Regions from separate parts of the Homo sapiens genome. Here region 2 is linked to region 1. Evidence: fine-mapped expression QTL. A gene starts in region 1. The other region holds a variant in brackets. All regions are shown on one strand. Distances are between the middles of the regions. Region 1 holds the start of IGLL1 (immunoglobulin lambda like polypeptide 1). Region 2 has its middle 8.0 kb from the start of RGL4.

Region 1 (5,374 bases):
TTTTGTAGAAATGGGGTCTTGCTATGTTGCTCAGGCTGATCTCAAACTCCTGGGCTCAAACAATCCCGCCTCAGCCTCCCAAAGTTGTGGGATTACAGGCATGAGCCACTGCACCTGGCCCATAGTATTTCTAAAGATTATAAAAACTCATATTCATATCCCCCCCAGCATAATACCTTTTTTTTTTTTTGAGTGGGAGTCTCGTTCTGTCGTCCAGGCTGGAGTGCAGCGGTGCAATCTCAGCTCACTGCAACCTCCACCTCCCTGATTCAAGCGATTCTCCTGCCTCCCCTCCCGAGTAGCTGGGACTATAGGCTCGCGCCACCACGCCCAGCTAGTTTTTGTATTTTTAGTAGAGACGGAGTTTTGCCATGTTGGCCAGGATGGTCTCAATCTCCTGACCTCGTGATCTGCCCATCTTGGCGTCCTAAAGTGCTGGGATTACAGGCATGAGACACAGCACCCGGCCCATAGTATTTCTATAAGATTTCTAAAGATTCTAATATAAAAACTTACATTAATAGCCCCCCAACATAATACCATTTTTTATTATCTGTGTCTCCCTCCACCTGTCACCCGTCCCTTGTGGAGACCCCTCGGGCCTTCCCCATCCCAGTCTCTGTTCTGTAGGCATCACCCTGCATGTGGCTGTCTCCTCACCCGGCCCCCGCTCCTTGTGGACTTGAATTGGGGCAAATCTAGATCCTCTGGGACCTCAGCCCCAGCACAGAGCCTGACCCTGATGGGGACTCCTTGCTCAGAAGTCCGTGCAGGACACTGACACCCGGTCCCGGCCTGCCACCATGCTGACCCCGCCTCCATGGCCGGGCTCCTGGTGTGGGTCAGGTCGGCTGCCACTGCTGGAGCTCTCACCACAGCCACCCCAGCATCCTCTGGGTGGGTGGGACGCTGAAGGCCCTCACCAGTCAGGGCCCCTCAGATTGCAGAAGGGGAAACTCAGGCCCGGTGTGGTGTCTCATGCCTGTAATCCCAGCACTTTGGGAGGCTGAGGTGGGTGGATCACCTGAGGTCAGGAGTTTGAGACCAGCCTGGCCAACATGGTGAAACTCTGTCTTTACTAAAAAAAAATACACAAAATTAGCCAGGTGTGGTGGCAGATGCCTGTAATCCCAGCTACTCCGGAAGCTGAGGCAGGAGAATGTCTTGAACCTGGGAGACGGAGGTTTCAATGAGCCAAGATCTCGCCATTGCACTCCAGACTGGGCGACAAGAGTGAAACTCTGTGAAACTTTATTTGAAAAAGAAAAAAAAGAGAGAAAAAGGGAAACTCAGGTCCCAGAGATGCACGTGTCCGCTCGATCAGCTTAGAGGATGGGACAGGGGAGAGCTAGAGGGGATAGCTTGGGCCTTAGAATCTGTGCCCATGAGCTGAGTGACTCGGACGGGTCACCTCACCTCTCCGGGCTCTATCCCCGTCTGCACAAAGGGGATCACAGCAGGACCTGCCTATGGGGCCACCGAGAGGGAGGTTCTGCCCCTGAAATGATTATCGCCTGTGGGTATAACATGCACCAGTGAACAGGCTGTTGTGTCCCAAATGCTCATAAATGGACCCCGATGCTTGGTGCTTTGTCTGGGGACCTCCCACCACACGCAGAGTGGTGGCAATGGCTGAGGTCACACAGGGAGTTGTGGCCTCCCTAGAGCCTCTCCTGGGCTTCTTCTTTGGAGGCACTTGCACCCTGGATAAGCTTGTGTCTCCTAGGGGCTGGTTTCAGGAGGCGATGCTGGCTGAGGTCTAGTGACCCAGGGACTCCAGGAAAGGCCCCTCACACCTTAGCTGGAGCTCCAGGGAGTGGCCCCTGCCCAGTGAGGGTGGGAGTGGACAGGTGACATAGGCCAAGGGGAAAAGAGGAGGGGGGGGAGGAGGAGTGGGAGGAGGAGGAGGGAGAGGCCTGGGCATCCTTCAGGGATAGCGGCCACCACTCCTGTGGACGTCCTGCCCCTGCCTCCAGTCCTGCCCTACCCCAAGGACTAGGGGGAGGTGAGGGAGACATTGGCCTTGGTGCCAAATGTAAGTGGGGGAAGAAATCTCAGGAATCAAGATAAATAATATTTTAATATGACATTAAGCAATAAAAATTAATTCAAAGATGGACAAAATCTTGACACTTTAGTTAAAGTCAGTGTCTGTGGCTCCCCTCCAGGGATTAACCTTCCTCCTCACCCCTCTGGCTCGTCTCCCCTTGGTCATCCTTTCCCGCCTCTGCCACCCAGACCCCCACATCCCCTGGAATCTCTCACCCCTTACCTGCCCCACCGGCTCCTCAGGCTGGACCGGCTGCTTCCTCCAGGGGCTCCAGGGCCCAGGGCCCTGCTCTGCGATGCAGCTGTTGGGCGCAGCAGGCCATGGGTTACCACGGCCAGACCCAGCAGCAGCAGGGGCCAGCGCTGCCTGAGGTTGGGGCCTGGCTCACCAGGGGCCTCAAGGCCCCCCTGGCCTGTCCCTGGCCTCATCGGCCCTCAGGGTCAGAGGTCCTTGTGGCCTGACTTGCAGTGTGGGCTCCCTAGAGAGTGGTGCCCTGGTCCCTCTCGCTGGCAGCAGCTGTCCCATTGCACCCCAGTCCATGTGGCCCCATCCTCATCCTCTGGTCCCTGCCCCCAGCCAGGCCCCTTCCAGAGTCCATGACCGTTACCCCTGGGGTTCTGTCCCAGAGGCACATCTGCCAACTGCCCTGCTGTGGTCAGGATCCAGGGCTCAACTGCCTCCCACACCTGTCAGCTTGGCCTTGCCCCTGGGGCCCTGGGTGCTTTGTTTGGGGACCTCCCACCACAGGCAGAGGGTCAGCAAGAGCTGAGGTCACACAGGGAGGTGGGATGCGCCATGGCCCCCCAAGACCCTCCCTTGGGGCTTTCCTTTGGAGGCACCTGCGCCCTGGATGGGCTTGAGTCCCCTCGGGGCTGGTCCCAAGAGGTGATGCACCTGACTTCCCTCCTTCCCCACTTCCCCGAGGGCGCCCTGGGTCTGTGGAGCATCTCACTGGGGTCCAGAGAGCTGCCCAGCAGGAGTCCCCCAGGGCTTGAGCTCAGGGGCCTGGGCTGAGGCTCCTCCAACCGGTCCTAGAGGGAGGTGTGGTTAGAGAGCAGGAAACAGGTTTGGGTTTAGCCAGAAGCCACTCAACGGTTCAAGTCCAGGAATCATGAGATAAGAATGAAAATGCTGTTTAATGCACCATGTTCAGCACCTCACTGACCTCACATCACACAGACACACACACACACACCAACCACCCCAGCTTCCTGAAGGTATAATTGACAAAACTGTATATATATTTACCACCTACAGTGCGATGCTTTGCCACACTGCAAAATGATTAAATCAAGCTGACACACACGTCCGTCATCTCACATACTTATGCTTTTGTAGTGAGAACATGGAAGATCTAATCTTAGCAATTTTCCAGTATACAATACAGTTTTTAACTGTAGACTCCATGTTGTACGATACATCTCCAGAGTTCATTCTTATAGATTTCACTCAAAGGCCAGTAGCTTCCTCCTGAGCGGTGAGTGCATCATGTCATGGCTTCTGACAGGCCCCCGGTCCTCTCCCAGCCCAGCATCCCCGACCCTCTCCCAACATCTCGCGACCCTGTGCTTTGGTGTTGAGGGAGCAGTGGCAGTCAGGAGGGACTGAGCACCTGTGCTGGGCGGCCAGGGCCAGGCTCTTTTGCTGGTGCTGCCAGAGACGCCTCAGGTCACCCAAGAGTCTCAGGTTCCTCTCCTTCCTCCAGAGGCGGGGCTGGAAATGCTGCTGGCTCTGCTCACACTCCAGGGCTGGGTTGAGGTTGGTGTTGGGAGATAATGCATGTCAGTGTTGTTTTCTTCATCTGTGAAAAAGCAGTAACATACACACAACCTAAAATTTATCATCTTGACCTTTTTTTTTTTTTTGAGAGTCTTGCTGTGTCGCCAGGCTGGAGTGCAGTGTGGCGTGATCTCAGCTCACTGAAACCTCCGAATCCCTGGTTCAAGCGATTCTCCTGCCTCAGCCTCCTGAGTAGCTGGGATTACAGGCATGCACCACCACGACAAGCTAATTTTTGTATTTTTAGTAGAGATGGGGTTCACCATGTTGGCCAGGCTGGTCTCGATCTCCTAACCTCATGATCCACCCGCCTGGGCCTCCCAAAGTGCTGGGATCACAGGTGTGAGCCACCGCGCCTGGCCCATCTTGACCATTTTTAAGTACACAGTTCAGTGGCATTAACTACATTCACAATGTCGTGCAACCATCACCACCATCCATTTCTAGATTTTTCTTTTTTCAGAGTCTTGCTCTGTTGCCCAGGCTGGAGTGCAGTGGCGCAATCTTAGCTCATGGCAATCTCTTTCTCCCGGGTTCAAGCGATTCTCCTGTCTCAGCCTCCTGAGTAGCTGGGATTACAGGCGCCCACCACCATGCCAGCTAATTTTTGTATTATTAGTAGAGATGGGGTTTCAGCATGTTGGTCAGGCTGGTCTCAAACTCCTGACCTCATGATCCACCTGCCTCGGCCTCCCAAAGTGCTGGGTTTACAGGCGTGAGCCACCGCAACTGGCTTTTTCTTTTTTTTTTTTGAGACGGAGTCTCACTCTGTTGCCCAGGCTGGAGTGCAATGGCATGTCTAGATCTTTTTCATCTTGCAGAACTCAAATTCTGTCCCCATTCAACACCAACTTCCCATTCCTCCCTCCCCCAGCCCCTGGCACCCACCATGCTAGTTCCCATCTCTATATTTGGGTACTCTGGATACCTCCTATGGATGGGACCATACACTACTTGTCCTTTGAAAGTCCTTTTTAAACTGGAAAGTGCTGCATGTGTAATACCTTCAGGGGCTTATTATTATTATTATTATTATTATTTTGAGATGGAGTTTCACTCTGCTGCCCAGGCTGAAGTGCAATGGTGCTATCTCGGCTCACTGTGGCCTCTGCCTCCCGGGTTCGAGCAATTCTCCTGCTTCAGCCTCCCAGGCAGCTGGTCTACAGGTGCCCGCCATCATGCTAAATTTTTGTGTTTCTAGTAGAGACGGGGTTTCACCATGTTGATCAGGCTGGTCCCGAACTCCTGATCTCAGGCGATCAGCCCACCTCAGCCTCCCAAAGAGCTGGGATTACAGGCGTGAGCCATCGTGCCCGGCCAATTATCATATTATTATTATTACCAGCTGACCCAGTTAGTGTGGCCTGGAAAATGTTGTCAACCATCATAAAATAAATGAATCCTTGATGATACTGAGCTTCCAAATGCCAGTCTTCAAATTTTGCACTGCAACTCAGAGGGTGTAAAATTAATTCCAATGGCTGCAACCAGCATTTTGTTAAAGTGAGGCAGCCCAGAGCTGACTCCAGCTGGAGAGCGAACTGT
Region 2 (5,374 bases), 100 kb after region 1:
TTACCTCTTGATTTTTTCTCCAAAGCCAGCCACGAAAAAGTTGACCACAGACTTCAAAACATTTCTAACAATAGCAAAGTCCAATTGATGGCAGACTTCAAAAATTGCAAATACTCTTCTCTAACTCGAGATGCCCCCATTGTTTTACAATTCATTCACAGCTCTCCCAATTCAGATAATGATGACCAACTCTGGGCCATTTTTATTTGTAGTCTGGTAACCCAACACAGATGACATTCCACCTTTTCCAGGTTTCCAAGGGAACTGACTCAGAAAGTTAACCCAAGTTCATATTCATTTCTAGAGAAAGATAAAAAAAGTTTTCTAACTTTATTCATGCATACGCAATACAAGGATCCGTGGAATTTCTGAGAGACCTTCAACCTCACTGCCAAATTTTCAAGAGCTGTGACAAACCTTAATGTCAAAGAAAGACTGCTTTCATAGCAGCAGAACTGCCATCACATCTCTCAGCTGGATCTGCCACGGGCTTTTTTTTATGACGTATCAACTGCTTCCCCATGTCTCTGAGTTGTTGAAAGTATCACAGCGGCAAACACATTTTTCTTTCTCACTTTTTTTTTTGCTGTTGAGATGGAGTCTCAATCGGATTATCCCCCAGGCTGAAGAGCAGTGGCGCAATCTTGGCCCACTGCAACCTCCGCCTCCTGAGTTCAAGCGATTCTCCTGCATCAGCCTCCAGAGTAGCTGGGACTAGAGGCACATGCCAGCACGCCTGGCTAATTTTTGTATTTTTAGTAGAGACAGGGTTTCACCATGTTGGCCAGGCTGGTCTCAAACTCCTGACCTCAGGTGATCCACCCGCCTTGGCCTCCCAAAGTGCTGTGATCACAGGCGTGAGCCACCATGCCCAGCAGGCAAACACATTTCTAGTTCATGCATACATATGCCAGGTGGGATGAACCTGCCCCGGGGCCCCTGATGGTGCTCATGGGTAGAGCAGGGTGATCCCCAGGTCCCACGATGGCATGGGACCTGATGCTGGCATCAGGTGGTCTGGCCTGTTGTTAGGCCCCCTGCTGGTGCAAGCACATGCCAGAAGTGGAAGGCAGGGCAGGTCTATACCCAGGTCCCTGGGTGAAGTACTTGGGTACTTGTGGGGTGGGGGTTCTCTGGGAGGGGTCAGCCTGTCCTTAGGCCCTGTGGGAGCCTGCATGGACACAGGTTGTGGTTGGTGGGCTGGGGTGATCCCCAGGCCCCTGAATGTCATCCTTGGGGACCAGGGGCAGGTGGGCTGGGTCTGTTGGCAGTCCTCCCTATGGTATGTGTCTGTGCCCATGGCAAGAGGTGGGCAGAGCAATTTCCAGGCTCCCAGGTGGCTTGCTTGGGTGGCAGTGGTGGTGACTGGTTGTGAGTGGGTTGAGTCTGCATTCAACAGTCAACTCAGAAACCCCAGACACCATTTTCCATGCCAACTGGCCTGTCCACCACTCAGAAAGGCCCTGGACACTGTGCCATGTGGCTGGCCCCGCATTGGGCCAGGCTTCCATGGGAGGCAGGAGGTCTGGGCCCTGCCCTGGGGAGGGAGAAGAATGGGACACAGGCAGTGGTCATTGAGCGGAAGAGACAGAATGAGCACAGGATGCTGTGAGGCGGTAAGTATAAGGAATCATGGAGCTGAAGGTGTTCATCTGACATATACCAGAAACTAACATAAGGTAGGAAAATACACAAAACCAACTAATCCAACAAAACTTGGGCAAAGAACTGATAGACATTTCTGAAAAGAAGGCAGGAAATGAACAGGTAAAAAAAAAAAGCTTGCCCACATCACTAATCATCACAAAAATTTAAATCAAATCACACTAAGACAGCGTCCCCATCCACATAAAATGAATGTTGCCAAAAGCAAAAACAGAATTTTTAAAACGCAATCACAAGTGTAAATTTACAGAGAGGGAAACTCTTAGACACTACTGGTGGGAATGTAAATGGGCGTACACACTATGAGCAATAGTTGGCAGTTCCTCCTCAAACTAAAAATACAATTACTATGTCATCTAGCAATCTCATCACTGGGAAATACAAAGTACATGGATGTATTATGCTCCCTGATTACAAATGACATAGAAGAGCTATAGTGGTCCAAACAATACGGTATTGACATTAACACAAAAATACAGAACAAGACACAACGAGGGAACCAAATACCAAACCCAAATTCATATATGATGGACACATTTTTAACAAATATACCCAGGGGATGGGAGACCCCGGGCTGCCTTCGGTTGGGGCTGCAGAAGTGTCCTGGGGGGACCTGCAGCCACCTCTCACCTGGGCTCTGGATGGTTTCTACTCCATGAGGATTTCCAGAGTTTCCCCTCAGCCACCCTCAGAGTCAGGGGGGCTTCCATGGGGCTGCAACCATCTGTCCCAGTCTTTCCTGTCTCTATGACACACCGTGTGACCTGTGTACACTGCGAGATGTAGGTGCGTGCATTGAAACCGTACAGTTAAGATGACCTACAACTGATGCTACTCTAAGTCTTCCAGAGATTTTTCAGATATCCCCAGAGTAAACCAAACTAGTGATATCCCATGGTTTTGCAAACC[A/T]GAACCAACAACTGCACAGAAACAGCTCCTTATGCGCCATCAGACACTCTCCAGACCTGCCCCTCACTCACAAATGTAACAAAGCAGCATGAACCCAGGCAGTCTTCACTCCTCAGGGCCACATAACAACCTCTATCGGTCAGGAAGCCTTTGATCTGGGCCAGGCTGCCGACCCACAGGGGTTAATTGTGCCTCTCATGCTGAGTGTTGTTTCTCCTCACTGGACTAACCCCCACCCTTCCACCAAGAAGGGCCCCCAGGGAAACTGCTGTTTGACATCCAGGAGCCCATGTGGAATGTTCCAGCAACCTGGATGGCCTTGGCCACCTCTAATACCAGCCTTTCCCTCTGTGGGGCTCCCTTCCTGGCTCTTGCTCATGCAAGTCAATCTAAAGTGGCTGAGATGTCCTGCTCCCTCACCCTCCTGGGTCACCCTGATGGCATAGGCAGGTGTCTGCATTCAAGAACGAGTTACCCACAGGCCAACTTCCCTGGTGTGGGGGACAATGCCTGGGGCCTCCAAACAGCCAGCCCCAGGTAAACAATCCAGCTCTGACACAGCTCAAAGACTGTGTGGCGTACCTGGAGAGACTCTCTGGTCCTGTGCCCTCTTCTGGCTCACTGGATTCTTAGGATTATTGAGAGACTGGGCTTAAAGCTCTCAGCCTAGGGCCCACAATGCCACAGGGAATCAAATCAGCATGACCAGGGATCGAAGACCTCTCCTTGGCTGGGAATGGGGAATCAGGGTTGCAGAGACAAGGGGCACAGAGAGATGCCTGTGCCATCAGAGAAGGGACTGGGGATCTGGTCCACTCTGGGCTCCTCAACCTGAGCGTGAGGCCTTGCTGTGCCATGAGCTCACCTGCCCCTTGGGAGTCCACTGTGACTGCAGTCCAGTGGGGTCAATGTCCACACTGATGCCGGAAAGAAGTCCTGGGAGATGCGGAGGGCATCCTGTAGCGGCAGGCAGTCTGGGTGGTCCACGGGTGTGAGCTTCAGCAGGTCCTGGGAAGGGATGAGGTGGTGAATTGGGGGCCGTGTTTTTGGGGTTCGATGAGAAGCTCCTGGGGGAATGCTCAGTCCTCACCAAAAGAATTCAAAGGGCAGGTACTCAGGGACCCACACTCGTGCCTGCAAAATCTGAACTGAAAATTAGAATCGGAGCAGCAGGGTTGATTCTAAAAGGGGCTGGGCTCGCTTTTCTCCCTGCTGCAGTCATTACTCGTTTCCCCTGGCAGAGGCAGCCGGGTGGAGGCTCATCTCTTCAAGCAGCTGGGAGAGACACCCCACTACCCACCCTGCAGCTGCTCCAAGGATACTGGAGACAAAAAGACAGGGGCTGGGGAAGCAAGATGTTCCTGCCTCGACCAAGACAGCAATTGGCCAAATGCCCTGACCCTGCTGGCATGGTTACCGCAGGCCAGGCAGGCATATTCAGGGCTCAGGATCCCTCTGCCTGACTTTTCAAATGGGCTGTTCTCAGTGACTCTGGCCCCCTCCCACCCTGGGCTCACTCTTGAGAAACTCCTAAGCCTTCTCTGGCCCTTCAGGGGCCTTAACGCTTATGTGTAGGACCAGGATGCTCTGAGTGACCTACTTGGTCAATGGGCTGCTACAGCAGAGCTGTTGGGGAAGGCAGAGAGAAAAAGGACAATGACAGACAAAGAACCACTCAACACCTCAGAGACCAGCTTTGTCCCCCACCCAACCGCCTTGCTCCCCACATGAACACCTGCTTGCAGGAAGCCAAAGTGGGTCCACAGCAGCCCACCTCTGTTCTCACTCCCAGGGCAGACAAAGCAGCAAGAACAGGTGACACACAGCCCCGGTGACCCTGTCCCCTCCCTACCCGTGCCTACTCTCCCATCAAACCTGGCTTCGAGGGCTGCCCGCCAGTCCTGTCCAGGCCTTATCTGGCTCAGAGCAGATGATCCCCTGCACCTCCCACCCTGAATCACACAGCTACACCCAGCACATGCTACAGAGGCCCAGCACACTCTGGATCACATCCAGAAACTCCACAATAGGGGAGGAGACATGCTGTTTCCCAGGAAGGGCAGCTCCCCAGACTTGGTCATTCTCAGACTCCTCCAGTCAAAGGCCGGGCACAGCCAGCTGGGATCGCCATGCTTCACTCTGACCCACACGACTGGCCTTGCCTCCTCTATGGGAAGAGACCCCTCAGCACAACCTCAAACCGAGACATAACAGGACAGGACAGGCTGGATGCTAGAGAGGCCAGCCAGATCTCCACACAAAGGCTCTGCTCTTAAGCAGGAGGTAGCCTGAGGGTCAAAGGTTTCCTGAAGCAACTCAGGTGAGACCTCACATACAAGAGCCCCAAAGAGGCTGCAAAAGCACCAGCTCAGCCAGCCAAGAACCCAGGTGTCACACCCTTCTCAGACCACTGAGGATCGCTGGGATTCAGCAGGAAAAGGTGGACATGACAGCTGATGGACCAATACTTCCCAACACCCTTCCAGCAAGCAGCTGTGCCCCGCCCCTCCCCACATGAGTCACTCAACTTCAGTCCTGCACATGGATGCCTTTGACCATGGGGTCATGGCTTTGGTCTCCTGCCATAGGGGCAGTGAGAGGAACAATGGTGGTCTGGGAAGGAGGATCCTAGACTGGGTGTCCCACAAGACCAGGCTGTGACAGATCCCAGAGCCAATACTCATGCGCCAGCCAGTCCCCAAACCCAACAGCTACCCAAAGCCCAGGATATAAATAGCCTGTGCACTGCTAAGCAGATACTTCAGGGAATGATCTGCTGGCTGTGAAGAAGATGCGGCCT

The links.
Region 2: its variant is fine-mapped to the expression of IGLL1 in whole blood (TOPMed, PIP above 0.99).

What each region holds. Positions count from the first base shown.
Region 1 is chr22:23,577,713-23,583,086 of GRCh38, forward strand. IGLL1 (immunoglobulin lambda like polypeptide 1) reads right to left here and starts at 2,578. Exons shown (of 3, transcript NM_020070.4): 1 at 2,273-2,578. The coding sequence starts at 2,478. It also overlaps a transcript of DRICH1 not described here.
Region 2 is chr22:23,680,286-23,685,659 of GRCh38, forward strand. It overlaps the pseudogene GUSBP11. Among named protein-coding and RNA genes, the nearest start is that of RGL4, 8.0 kb to the right of the region's middle. RefSeq lists a silencer at 4,877-5,171. The variant A/T (reference allele first, on the strand shown) is at 2,575.